Linked DNA regions of Homo sapiens. The protein of the gene in region 1 purifies or fractionates together with the protein of each later gene. This does not show direct contact. Each region holds a gene or a part of one and is shown on either strand. Other genes may lie near its edges. The genes, in order: NUP155, TFE3 and MRPL45.

Region 1 (3,650 bases):
GCTGGATTCAAGTAGTAAGCCTAATACTGCCATTGTGGAATTCTCCATCAGATTTTAATCATCCATTGATAATCATTGCTGGAATTTATTATTTCATTTAGGATTACAAAAGGGTAATATTTATTTATTTGTTTGTTTGTTTTTTATTTTTTTTGAGACAGTGTCTCATTCTGTCACCCAGGCTGGAGTGCTGTGGAGCAATCTGAGATCACTGTAACCTCCACCTCCCGGGTACAAGCAGTTCTCCTGCCTCAGCTTCCCGAGTAGCTGGGACTACAGGCATGTGCCACAACGCCTGGCTGATTTTTGTAGTTTTAGTAAGAGACCGGGTTTCGCCATGTTGGCCAGGCTGGTGTTGAACTCCTGACGTCAGGTGATCTACCTGCCTTGGCCTCCCAAAGTGCTGGGATTACAGGCATGAGCCACCATGCCCGGCCAAAAGGATAATATTTTAAATCTGTGATTCCTTCCCCAGTTACTAGCTGCAATTCTGTAAAAAAAAAAAAAAAAATTCTTTTTCCTTGTCCTGTATGGATATTTCATTACTCTGAAACACTTACTTTTTGACTCTCGTATACCATTTTTCAACGTTGGAAGGCAGTCTCCTCATTCTTTCCACTAGTGTCCAATGAATAGTGTGGCTTTTGTTGGTGGTTTTGTTTCTTTTAAATACATACTGTTTTTTATTTTTAAAAATTCAAGCTAATATATTTAATTATGAAACTTATCTTTTTCATACCAAGTAGAATAATAATTTTGAGTTTTATAGAGTGATAAATATATTGTAGGTAGGTTTTTATCCTGGGTATGTTTTTGTGATCCATCTTCAAAGCTCTCTTCCTTACATCACCAATGGCATGCTCAATGAATGCAAATTAAAGATTTGTTCAAGAATTTTAACACAGTTTGGGTATTTCCTTGAATTTAGAAAAAAGAGATAGCAGTCACATCACTAACAGAATCTTTTACTATAGTATAAATCAATACTTTAGAGCTTCATTTGGACAAGCAGATTTGTTCACAATACAGATTAAACTCCAATATTATTATAAGGCCTAGAATAATGGAATTCTAACAGTGTTTAGGAAGGAGTAATATGTAAGCCCAAGATTTTCAAATATAGCCAAGTGATTGTTTTTTCCATTTTATAACCAAAGCCAGGAGATCTGACTCTAGTTTTGGCTCTACTTAAGCTTTACTTTTCTCATTTGGAAAGTGAGAGTTTTGGACTAGATCTACTGTAGGTTCTTTTCCAACTCTCTATGATTTTATGTAAGTTCGCAAAAATTTGTTTCTACTAATTAGTATATTTTCGCTTTTCAATTATAGAGTCTATTAATATTTAGGTTATTTTAATTTATTAAAATAATTTCATTATGTTTAGAAATATGGTATTTCTATAATTGTGATAGAAAAGTTTTATGCTCCTAGGAACTTCAAGAGCAGCTGAAGATCACCACCTTTAAAGATCTTGTAATCAGGGACAAAGAACTCACAGGGGCATTAATTGCTTCTCTTATCAACTGCTACATCAGAGATAATGCCGCTGTTGATGGCATTAGTTTACATTTACAGGATATCTGCCCACTTCTATATAGCACTGATGATGCAATTTGTTCTAAGGTATGATACTTTATTACCTATTTCATTGTTTGTTATAAGAGGTATCATGTATGATGAACCATCTTGTTTCACTTAATATAGGACCTCAGTCAGTTAGATCTCTTAACCTCTCCTAGCCTCAGAATCCTCATCTAAGAAAGGGGTTGGAATATGTGGCTTCTTAAAACCAGTGTATACTCTTTTAAGCTTAGCTTTTCTTTTTAAAAATATTTTTATTTATTTATTTGACACAGGGTTTCACTCTGTTGCTTAGGCTGTAGTGCAGTGCTGTGATCATAGCTCACAGCAGCTTCTAAGTCCTAGACTCAAGCAGGCCTCTCATGTAGCTAGGGGCTACGGGTGTGCACCACTACACCCAGCCAATTTTTTTGTTTTTTATAGAGACAAGTTCTGATTTGTTGCACAGGCTGGTCTTGAACTCTTGGCTTCAAGTGATCCTCCTGCCTCAGCCTCCCATAGTGCTGGGATTATAAGTGTGAGCCACCATGCCCAGCCCTCCTTTAAGTTTTTCATAAAGAATATTCTCTCTTTTTTTTTAAGACTGAGTACGATCTCAGCTCACTGCAACCTCCACCTCCCAGGTTCAAGTGATTCTCCTGCCTCGGCCTCCCAAATAGCTGGGATTACAGGTGTGCACCATCACACCTGGCTAATTTTTTATATTTTTGGTAGAGACAGGATTTCACCATGTTGTCTAGGCTGGTTTTGAACTCCTGACCTCCGCCTGCCTCAGCCTTGCAAAGTGTTGGGATTATAGACATGAGCCTCTGCGCCTGGCCCATAAAGAATCTTTGATAGTGTTTCTAGGCCATATTAAAAAACCAAAGGTGAGAAATTAAGAAAAATCACTAAATTTAGAAATTAAGGAAATTTAGGGGATAATTTATCTCCTTAGCTTAAGGAAAAGTACTAAAACTTCAAGTAAATCTTTTAGTGAATTAGAGTTAATGGGGGCATTTTTATTGATCCTTTCCTACAGGTGGAAAAAATAAATAAATCAGTGTCACATGGACTGCCTGCTGCCCAATAATGTATTGACTAGGCAAGAGAATTACCAGACAAAAGTTCTCTTGCTTAACATATTTGGGAGAGGAATTAAGAATAGCTAGGAATCTTTGGTCAAAAACTTTTCTGCCTAAAATTAAGAAGTAAGTTTGTAGAGTTGTTTTCATTTTAATGGTAATAACCATATATAAATTTAGACATAGACTAAAACTTAGTTGACAGCATCATCTGTCTGCTTGATTTTATATATTTTTAAGTTCTTGTTATCTCCTCTTCTAGGCAAATGAGCTTCTCCAGCGTTCCCGACAAGTTCAAAATAAGACTGAAAAAGAAAGAATGTTAAGGGAATCATTAAAGGAATATCAAAAAATTAGCAATCAAGTGGACCTTTCCAATGTTTGTGCTCAGTATAGACAAGGTGAGAAATAAAATGTTTCTTGTATCTTTTACTCAACTCAAAAGACAAACAATAGTGTATGAATGAAGCAAGCTAATGATGAAAAGCCACTTTCCAGATGCAAATCTTCTTTCAGCATCAGAGGCCGAGTGAAAGGACGTAGGAATGTGGTATCATTGTGTTGCAATATTTGATGACTACACTGACCTGCAGAAGCTGTAATGTTCTTTCTATTTTTTGAAATGTACTTTTTTTTTTTTTTTTTTTTTTTTTTGAGAGTCTCGCTCTGTCAGCCAGGCTGGAGTGCAGTGGCACGATCTCAGCTCACTGCATCCTCTGCCTCCCAGGTTCCAGCAATTCTCCTGCCTCAGCCTCCCGGGTAGCTGGTATTACAGGCGCACGCCACCACGCCCAGCTAATTTTTTATTTTTTTATTTTTTTATTTTTTTTATTTTGAGACAGAGTCTTGCTCTGTCACCCAGGCTGAAGTGCAGTGGTGCGATCTCAGCTCACTGCAAGCTCTGCCTCCCAGGTTCACGCCATTCTGCCTCAGCCTCCCAAGTAGCTGGGACTACAGGCGCCTGCCACCATGCCCGGCTAATTTTTTTGTATTTTTAGTAGAGAT
Region 2 (3,650 bases), on another chromosome or scaffold:
TTCCAGTGAGCCGAGATAGCACCATTGCGCTCCAGCCTGGGTGACAGAGCAAGACTTTGTCTCAAAAAATAAATAAATAAATATAATAAAGCAAGTTATGAGACTCTTGGAGTGTTCAAAACCAGAATGTTACAATGGTATATCCCTTGCTCTAGAAAGTTTTATCTACTGACTAGAAGGACTCTGCCTCCTGGCACAGTTCACTTGGTATATTCCAATCACTACGAGATCCAACTACTTGTTATAACCCACAGCAAGTTTGAAAACTTTTGTTATGCTTCAAGGCCAGGCGTGGTGGCTCACACCTGTAATTCCAGCACTTTGGGAGGCCAAGGCAGGTGGATCACTTGAAGTCAGGAGTTCAAGACCAGCCTGGCTCACAGGGTGAAACCCGGTCTCTACTAAAAATACAAAAATTAGCCAAGCGTAGTGGCGTACACCTGTAATCCCAGCTACGTGAGAGGCTGAGGCACGAAAATCGCTTGAACCCAGAGGCTGCAGTGAGCCAAGATCGCACCGCTGCACTCCAGCCAGGGTGACAGAGTGAGACTCTGTCTTAAAAGAAAAAAAAGGTAAAAATAAAATAAAACAAAATGCTCCAATCATTACATGGTCTGGTGTATATGTCCCGATGACCTGAATCCCTTGGTACATTCAAGTTGCTATAAGATGCTCATCTCGGCCGGGTGTGGTGGCTCACGCCTGTAATCCCAGTACTTTGGGAGGCCGAGGCAGGCAGATCACGAAGTCAGGAGTTCAAGACCCGCCTGACCAACGTGATGAAACCCCGTCTCTACTAAAAATAGAAAAATTAGCTTGGTATGGTGGCACGTGCCTATAATCCCAGCTACTCAGGAGGCTGAGGTAGGAGAATCGCTTGGACCTGGGAGGCAGAGGTTGCAGTGAGCTGAGACCGCGCCACTGCACTCTAGCCTGGGTGACAGAGCGAGACTCCGTCTCGAAAAAAAAAAAAAAAAAAGATTATCATCTCTTGGTACTTCTCACAGCAAAGCCCAAGCACTTTGATATGCCCTACTGTCTCAGTGAACTCCCCACCTGTATCTCTCACAGTCTACATGGTCCACCTCTCAACACAGTCCAACAAGGTCCAAAGGCATTGTTGACATACCCTGTTCTCGTCATAAGGCCTCCCTCTCTATCTTAGCACAATCAAGGCAAGGGTCTCCTATACACACAGCCAGACTGAGTATGGTCTTGGTGATACAGAAATGCCCTAATTTTCAGACCAACCTCCCATCTCAGGGCCTCACCGTGCTGGGGAGCTGCAGTCCTGTGGTGCCTCCGGGCAGATAGCTGAGCATTTCATCATTGTAACTGGACTCCAGGCTGATGATCTCATCAATGACATCATCAATCTAGGGGAAGAAGTAAATATTATACAGGTTTAGAAGAATTTGGGAGGGGAATGTGGGAGGAGGTTTGGCTGTAGCCTCTTACCTCCTTCTCTGAGCTGGACCCGATGGTGAGCAGCGCCATGGGGCTGTTGGGCGCACTGCCTGTGGGGCCGGTAGTGTGGGCAGCCTCAGGGGCAGGCAGTGGCTGGGCACTTGCGGGCCCCGGCGGTGGGGTGAGGGCCTGGGAAGCCAGCTTGGGCCCGAGTGTGGTGGACAGGTACTGTTTCACCTGCTGCCGGCGCGCCTGCTGCAGGTGGTAGCGCGTTGGGTTCTCCAGATGGGTCTGCACCTGTGAAATAAGGTAGACAAGGAAAGAGAGGGGACAAGGCAGAACAGGACTCAAAGGGGTGAATTCTGAGCCCCAGCCTGACCCTCCTAACTCATTGGTGCCTAGACTCACGCAGACAAGCTGGGCCCAGAATCTGAGAACACCCCAAAAATATTAGCGAGTCTCCCCCAGGACCCAAACTCTCTTTCTCAGAAATCCTTCACAGCTGCCAAGATCCACCCATGACTGACAGGATCCCTCGTAGTTTCTGGAAAACCCTGTCACAGTCCCCAAGATTCCCCACCTAGTCTCTGACACCACCTAATAGACCTGGGAACCATACAATGCTTCCCAAGACCCCCTAATGGCCAAAGAACTAATGTATCCCACACACATGAAGCTCTTCCTACAAAGCCAGGGCCCACTTGGGGCACTCATGAGCCTCCATGGTCCACCAAGACATCCTCATGGCCCCCACGAACTCCTCGCAATTTCACAAGATCATCTCAGAAACCCAAAACACATGAGACATGAACACAGATAATTTAAACAGTACCAGGGACCTTCCTTAGAGCCCCTAAGACCTTGCCCCCAAATCACCAGTGCATCGAGGCCATCCCTAGCTCCTAGGATCACTCCTCAGTCACCAGGAGCCCCCTCCCAGGGCCTCTGGATCTCACCTTACCTTGAGCACCTCCCTGGGCACCTGAGCAGGGGGTGGACGGCTCAATGTGTGGCCCCCAGCAGAGACGCCAACCACAGAGATGGCAGGAGAGGCAGGTGCAGGACTGGGGAAGGGAGCCGCGGCGGCCTGTTCCCGACGCTCACGCCTCTCCTGCTCCTGCGCCTGGGCCCGCATTAGCTGCTGCCGCAGCAAGACCCTCGATGAAGAAGATGACGACATGGCAGGGGTCCTGGAGCCCCCTGCAGAAGACGATGCAGAGAGTGTAGCTGGGGTGGCTGGTGTGGCCTGCAGTGATATTGGGAGGCTGTGGAATGGGAAATATGGGGCCATATTTTAGGTAAGCTAAAAGTCTCATCCCAAGCCTAAAGGGTCTTAGCGTGACGGAGCAGACACAGGAACCAGGCCTGTTCTCTGCCTTCCGAGGCCACAATGTAGAAGCAGAGACACAGGAACCAGGCTTGGTGATGGCTCTCAGGGGTCACAGTCTGATGGGGGACACACTGGAGGTCAGTCTGGTGGGGGAGTTTTAGCCTTTGGTCCTTATGGTGAAGCCTAGATTTGAGCCTGTTCACATATTAAGTGGAGATGCTATTGTTCAGCTCTGCAAGGGGGGGTTTGTCCTATTTACAGGAGAGCAGAAGAAGCAGAATTGAGGCTTTGGCAGCAGAATGTGGATACAGAGGGCTCCTAAGCCCAATGTGAGGCTAGAGAAGCTCTCTGAGCTCCTGGGGGTGGGCGTCAGGTGATAGGAGAAGCCCCAGGTTCCTCTTCTTCCCCTGCCTGGGCCTCTGGTCCCAGGAGCTAGTCAGTCTTGAAAACCTCGGAGATTTCACAATACTCTCTTCCTGCCCCTCTTCCCCCTCCCCTCCCCTCTCTCAGAGCCCGGGCCGATGACTCAGCACATTTAGACTTCCAAGCTTGGGGAAAGAAGAGACCAGCAGGGGCTCCTCAAGGGCTGAGGGTGGGTGAGTTGGTAGTGTGGGAAGGGACTGAGTTGGGGCTAGAGGCATGTCCCCGCCCACCCGGGGACATGAGTTTAAGCAGGCCACGCCCTATCTCTGAGCACTCCAGGCCGGCTGGAACACCTGAGGCTGAAACACTTGCATATGAATGGGTGTGCAGGTGGGCTGGGGGCAGGCAGGGGAGGTCTTGACAGAGATACTGGAATCCTAGCTTGGCCACCTACTTTCCTGTGTGACATGCTCTTTCTGGTCCCTAATTTTACCACCTAGAAAACGCAGGCTGGTGAAAGAATGGGTTGGGCTGGTACTGAGGGCCTCTG
Region 3 (3,750 bases), on another chromosome or scaffold:
CTTTAAAAAACGCCTGTAATCCTTGCACTTTGGGAGGCCGAGGTGGGCGGATTGCCGGAGCTCAGGAGTTGGAGACCAGCCTGGGCAACACGGTGAAACCTCGTCTCTACTAAACTAGAAAAAATTAGCCGGGCATGGCAGCGTGCACCTGTAATCCCAGTTACTCTGGCGGCTGAGGCAGGAGAATCGCTTGAACCTGGGAGGCAGAGGTTGCAGTGAGCCGAGATTGTGCCACCGCACTCCAGCCTGGGTGACAGAGTGAGACTCCGTCTCCAAAAACAACAACAACACGTGATCTCCAAACCCAAAAGTAATCTTTCAGTTCTTCTGATAGTCCCCAGCACTTTGCTTCGACCTTTGTAGCAATTCTACTTCAGCCTGAAATTTCTTGTATGTACAGCCTGTAGCTCCTAACTTATTGCAAAATATTGTAGATGAGAACTCTGTAAGCTGTAATTGGCAGAATAATAACCAACGGCTAAGTGTGGAAAGTGTCTGCCTTTCAGCAACGTTTACACTACTGAATTTACCAGGGTGATCCCAACATCACGAATCCTTTAACAACTTAACATGAAGCAGCACGTAGCAGTTACCTGCATGGGTTCTGGAATTAGACTGCTTAGATTCAAATCTCGGTTCTGCCAGTTATCATCTATCTAACCTTAAGTAAATTACGTAATTGCTCTGTGACTCCTTTCCGAAATGACAAATCACAAATGTTTTTGTCAATTCACGTGTCTTCTGCTTTAGTAAACATAGTAGAAGACAGTAGTCAATCTCTTTTTTTGTTTTTTTTTGAGACAAAGTCTTTCTCTGTCACCGACGCTGGAGTGCAGTGGCGGGATCTCGGATCACTGCAGCCTCCGCCTCCTGTGTTCGAGGGATTCTCCTGCCTTAGCCTCCCAAGTAGCTCAGACTACAGCCGCCTGCCACCAAGCCCGGCGCTCTCTTGCTGGCGCATGACAACCGTGCGTTCCACCCTACGACTAATTTTTTTTTTTTTTTTTTAGACGGAGTCTAGCTCTGGCTGGAGTCAGTGGCGCGATCTCGGCTCACTGCAACCTCTGCCTCCTGGGTTCAAGCGATTCTCCTGCCTCAGCCTTACAAGCAGCTGGGACTACAGGCGTGTGCCACCACGCCCGGCTAATTTTTGTATTTTTAGTAGAGACGGGGTTTCGTCATTTTGGCCAGGCTGGTCTCGAACTCCTGACTTCAGGTGATCCACCGGTCTCGGCCTCCCAAAGTGCTGGGATTACAGGCGTGAGCCACCGCGCCCGGCCTCCTTTTCCTTTTTTAACTAATGGAATAAACGGCAATGTGCCAAGCATACAGCAATGCCCATTCCCCGGCCTTCAGAAAGCCTCGGGCGCAGGCGCAGCTCGCGTTCAAGCGCTCTCTCGCTGGCGGGGGACAACAGTTCGTTCCACCCTACGCCCAACGTTGTCTCCCTGCGCACGCGCGGCCGTACTCCGCCCTCCTTACTCCACCCTCCCCCACTCCCGCGAGCACGTGCGCGTCCTCGCTGCTCACATTTCGGCGGAGGGCGCGCTCCCTGGAAAATTCCACTCCTGTGCTAGCTCCACCCTATGCGGCTTTTCTCCTACCCGACGCTCTTCACTCTCAGCTCCCTTCCCGGCGGCCTTTGCGGGAACAAGATGGCAGCCCCCATACCTCAAGGGTTCTCTTGTTTATCGAGGTTTTTGGGCTGGTGGTCTCGGCAGGTGGGTAGGGACGGGGCCGATAGGACCCTAGGGGCTACAGGAGAGGACAGAGTCGAGGGAAATACTCTCTGTGCAATTGTCCTTGGTGAGCTGGGACAATACGAGTCATACCTAGGCCGGGGAAGAGGCTTAGGTGGACAGGACCTAGCTGCGGAGCTCAGTGGTCGAATGGGGATAGCCTAGACAGGGCCATGAGAGCGAGTGAATTAACGGATATTAAGTTTTTCCGGATTGGTTTGGGTCTGTCTGGCGAGGAGATATTAAAGGAGAGACAAGTAATGGGTTGGAAGGTGGACTCCCTAATCTTCGATTCTTATAAGTGAACTACGTTGAAGAGTAGCCGAAAATGAGGGCGTCCCATATTGTCACTGCCCCGTCTGAGCAAACCTCATGATCAGAGAGAAAAGATCTCCTGATCTTTCGAGGGTTTATTGGTCAGTTGGGTGCTAAAACGACAGAATAAAGTTTACAGCGAGACTCCCGATAGGATGAGCAAAATATCACGAGTACATATGGAGCAGATGCCTACAAGAGGACTTTGCTTATGCTTTAAGCATAGCATTCAGGGCCCGGCGCGGTGGTTCACACTTGTAATCCCAGCACTTTGAAAGTCCGAGGCAGAAGGATGGCTTGAGCCCAGGAGTTCGAAATGAGCCTGGGCAACATATAAGACCTGGTCTTTACAAAAAAATTTTAAAATTAGCCAGATGCGATGGCGCACTCCTTAGTCCCAGCTACTTGGGAGGCTGCGGTGGGAGGATAGCTAGAGCCCAGGAGGTCAAGGCTGCAGTGAACCGTGATCGTGCCATCGCACTCTAGGCTAGCGATCTGCCTCAAAAAATAATAAAGAATAGTATTCTGCCCATTTCAGTATTGAGTTGGTGTTTCCCCATCACCATCAGTTTTTGAAACTTGCTTTGATCAACTCAGTATCCGTAGGAGTTAGCATAGTCCTGTACTGTGGGAAGTTCTAAAGGAAAGCCTTTAGTAAATGTGATGTTAATAAAGGTTGCTAACTGTCTTCTATTTAGAGACACCCATAAGTATTAAGGTCCTAATGCATTTTTTCCCTGTGATATTGTTTTATAATTGTTCCTGAAGCATTCTTTGGATATTCCCTCTCTATAGTGCTTTGCTTAGAGTTTGTAAAAGATAGTAGATCTTTTTTCTAGGTTCCTAACCTTTCCTTTACCTTCCAGCCAGTTCTGGTGACTCAGTCCGCAGCTATAGTTCCAGTAAGAACTAAAAAACGTTTCACACCTCCTATTTATCAACCTAAATTTAAAACAGAAAAGGAGTTTATGCAACATGCCCGGAAAGCAGGATTGGTTATTCCTCCAGAAAAATCGGACCGTTCCATACATCTGGCCTGTACAGGTGAGGTATTTCTGGGACCCTGACCTGGGATCCTTCTGTCAGAGATCTTCTGGAACTTGGGATGACTTGGACTATGATTGATAATATTTAATTAAGCACGAAGTCAGTTCAACCTCAATAATGATTAACCTTATATACACTATATATCATGAAGTTGTTCTTTGAACTTACTTTCACACTGTCCCTAGAAGGCAAGAGTGAAATTTCTCCATTTTGTGGAAGTAGAAACTGAGGCTCTGAGAGAAGACTTAAATCTTTCTGGCTTTTTTTGTTTTGTTTTGTTTTGTTTTTTGAGACAGAGTCTCGTTCTGTCGCCCAGTGGCACAATCTGGGCTCACTGCAACCTCTGCCCCCCTGGGTTCAAGCGATTCTCCTACCTCAGCCTTCCAAGTAGCTGGGATTACAGGCACCTGCCACCATGCCCGGCTAATTTTTGTATTTTTAGTAGAGATGGGGTTTCACCATCTTGGCCAGGCTGGTCTTGAATTCCTGACTTTGTGATCCGCCCGCCTCGGCCTCCCAAAGTACTGGGATTACAGGTGTGAGCCACTGTGCCCGGCCTTGTTTTGTTTTTTTCTAGTGTAACATAGTTCTCTCTACATGGAAGTCTGTTTCATTAGTCTACTTCATATCCACAATCCTTCCCAATTTT

The links.
Region 2: the proteins of NUP155 (region 1) and TFE3 purify together in Homo sapiens (co-immunoprecipitation; one large-scale study listed by IntAct). This does not show direct contact.
Region 3: the proteins of NUP155 (region 1) and MRPL45 purify together in Homo sapiens (affinity purification with mass spectrometry, with the first as the bait; one large-scale study listed by BioGRID). This does not show direct contact.

The regions. Positions count from the first base shown.
Region 1 is NC_000005.10:37,308,525-37,312,174, reverse strand, and holds part of NUP155 (nuclear pore complex protein Nup155), read left to right. Parts: intron 1-1,431; coding exon 1,432-1,623; intron 1,624-2,602; coding exon of another isoform or gene 2,603-2,653; exon of another isoform or gene 2,654-2,752; intron 2,753-2,907; coding exon 2,908-3,046; intron 3,047-3,650.
Region 2 is NC_000023.11:49,036,739-49,040,388, forward strand, and holds part of TFE3 (transcription factor E3), read right to left. Parts: intron 2,673-3,650; coding exon 2,369-2,672; intron 1,705-2,368; coding exon 1,459-1,704; intron 1,377-1,458; coding exon 1,272-1,376; intron 37-1,271; exon of another isoform or gene 1-36. UniProt on the Homo sapiens protein: Transcription factor that acts as a master regulator of lysosomal biogenesis and immune response.
Region 3 is NC_000017.11:38,295,529-38,299,278, forward strand, and holds the start of MRPL45 (large ribosomal subunit protein mL45), read left to right. Parts: upstream 1-1,639; 5' UTR 1,640-1,655; coding exon 1,656-1,721; intron 1,722-2,920; coding exon 2,921-3,098; intron 3,099-3,750.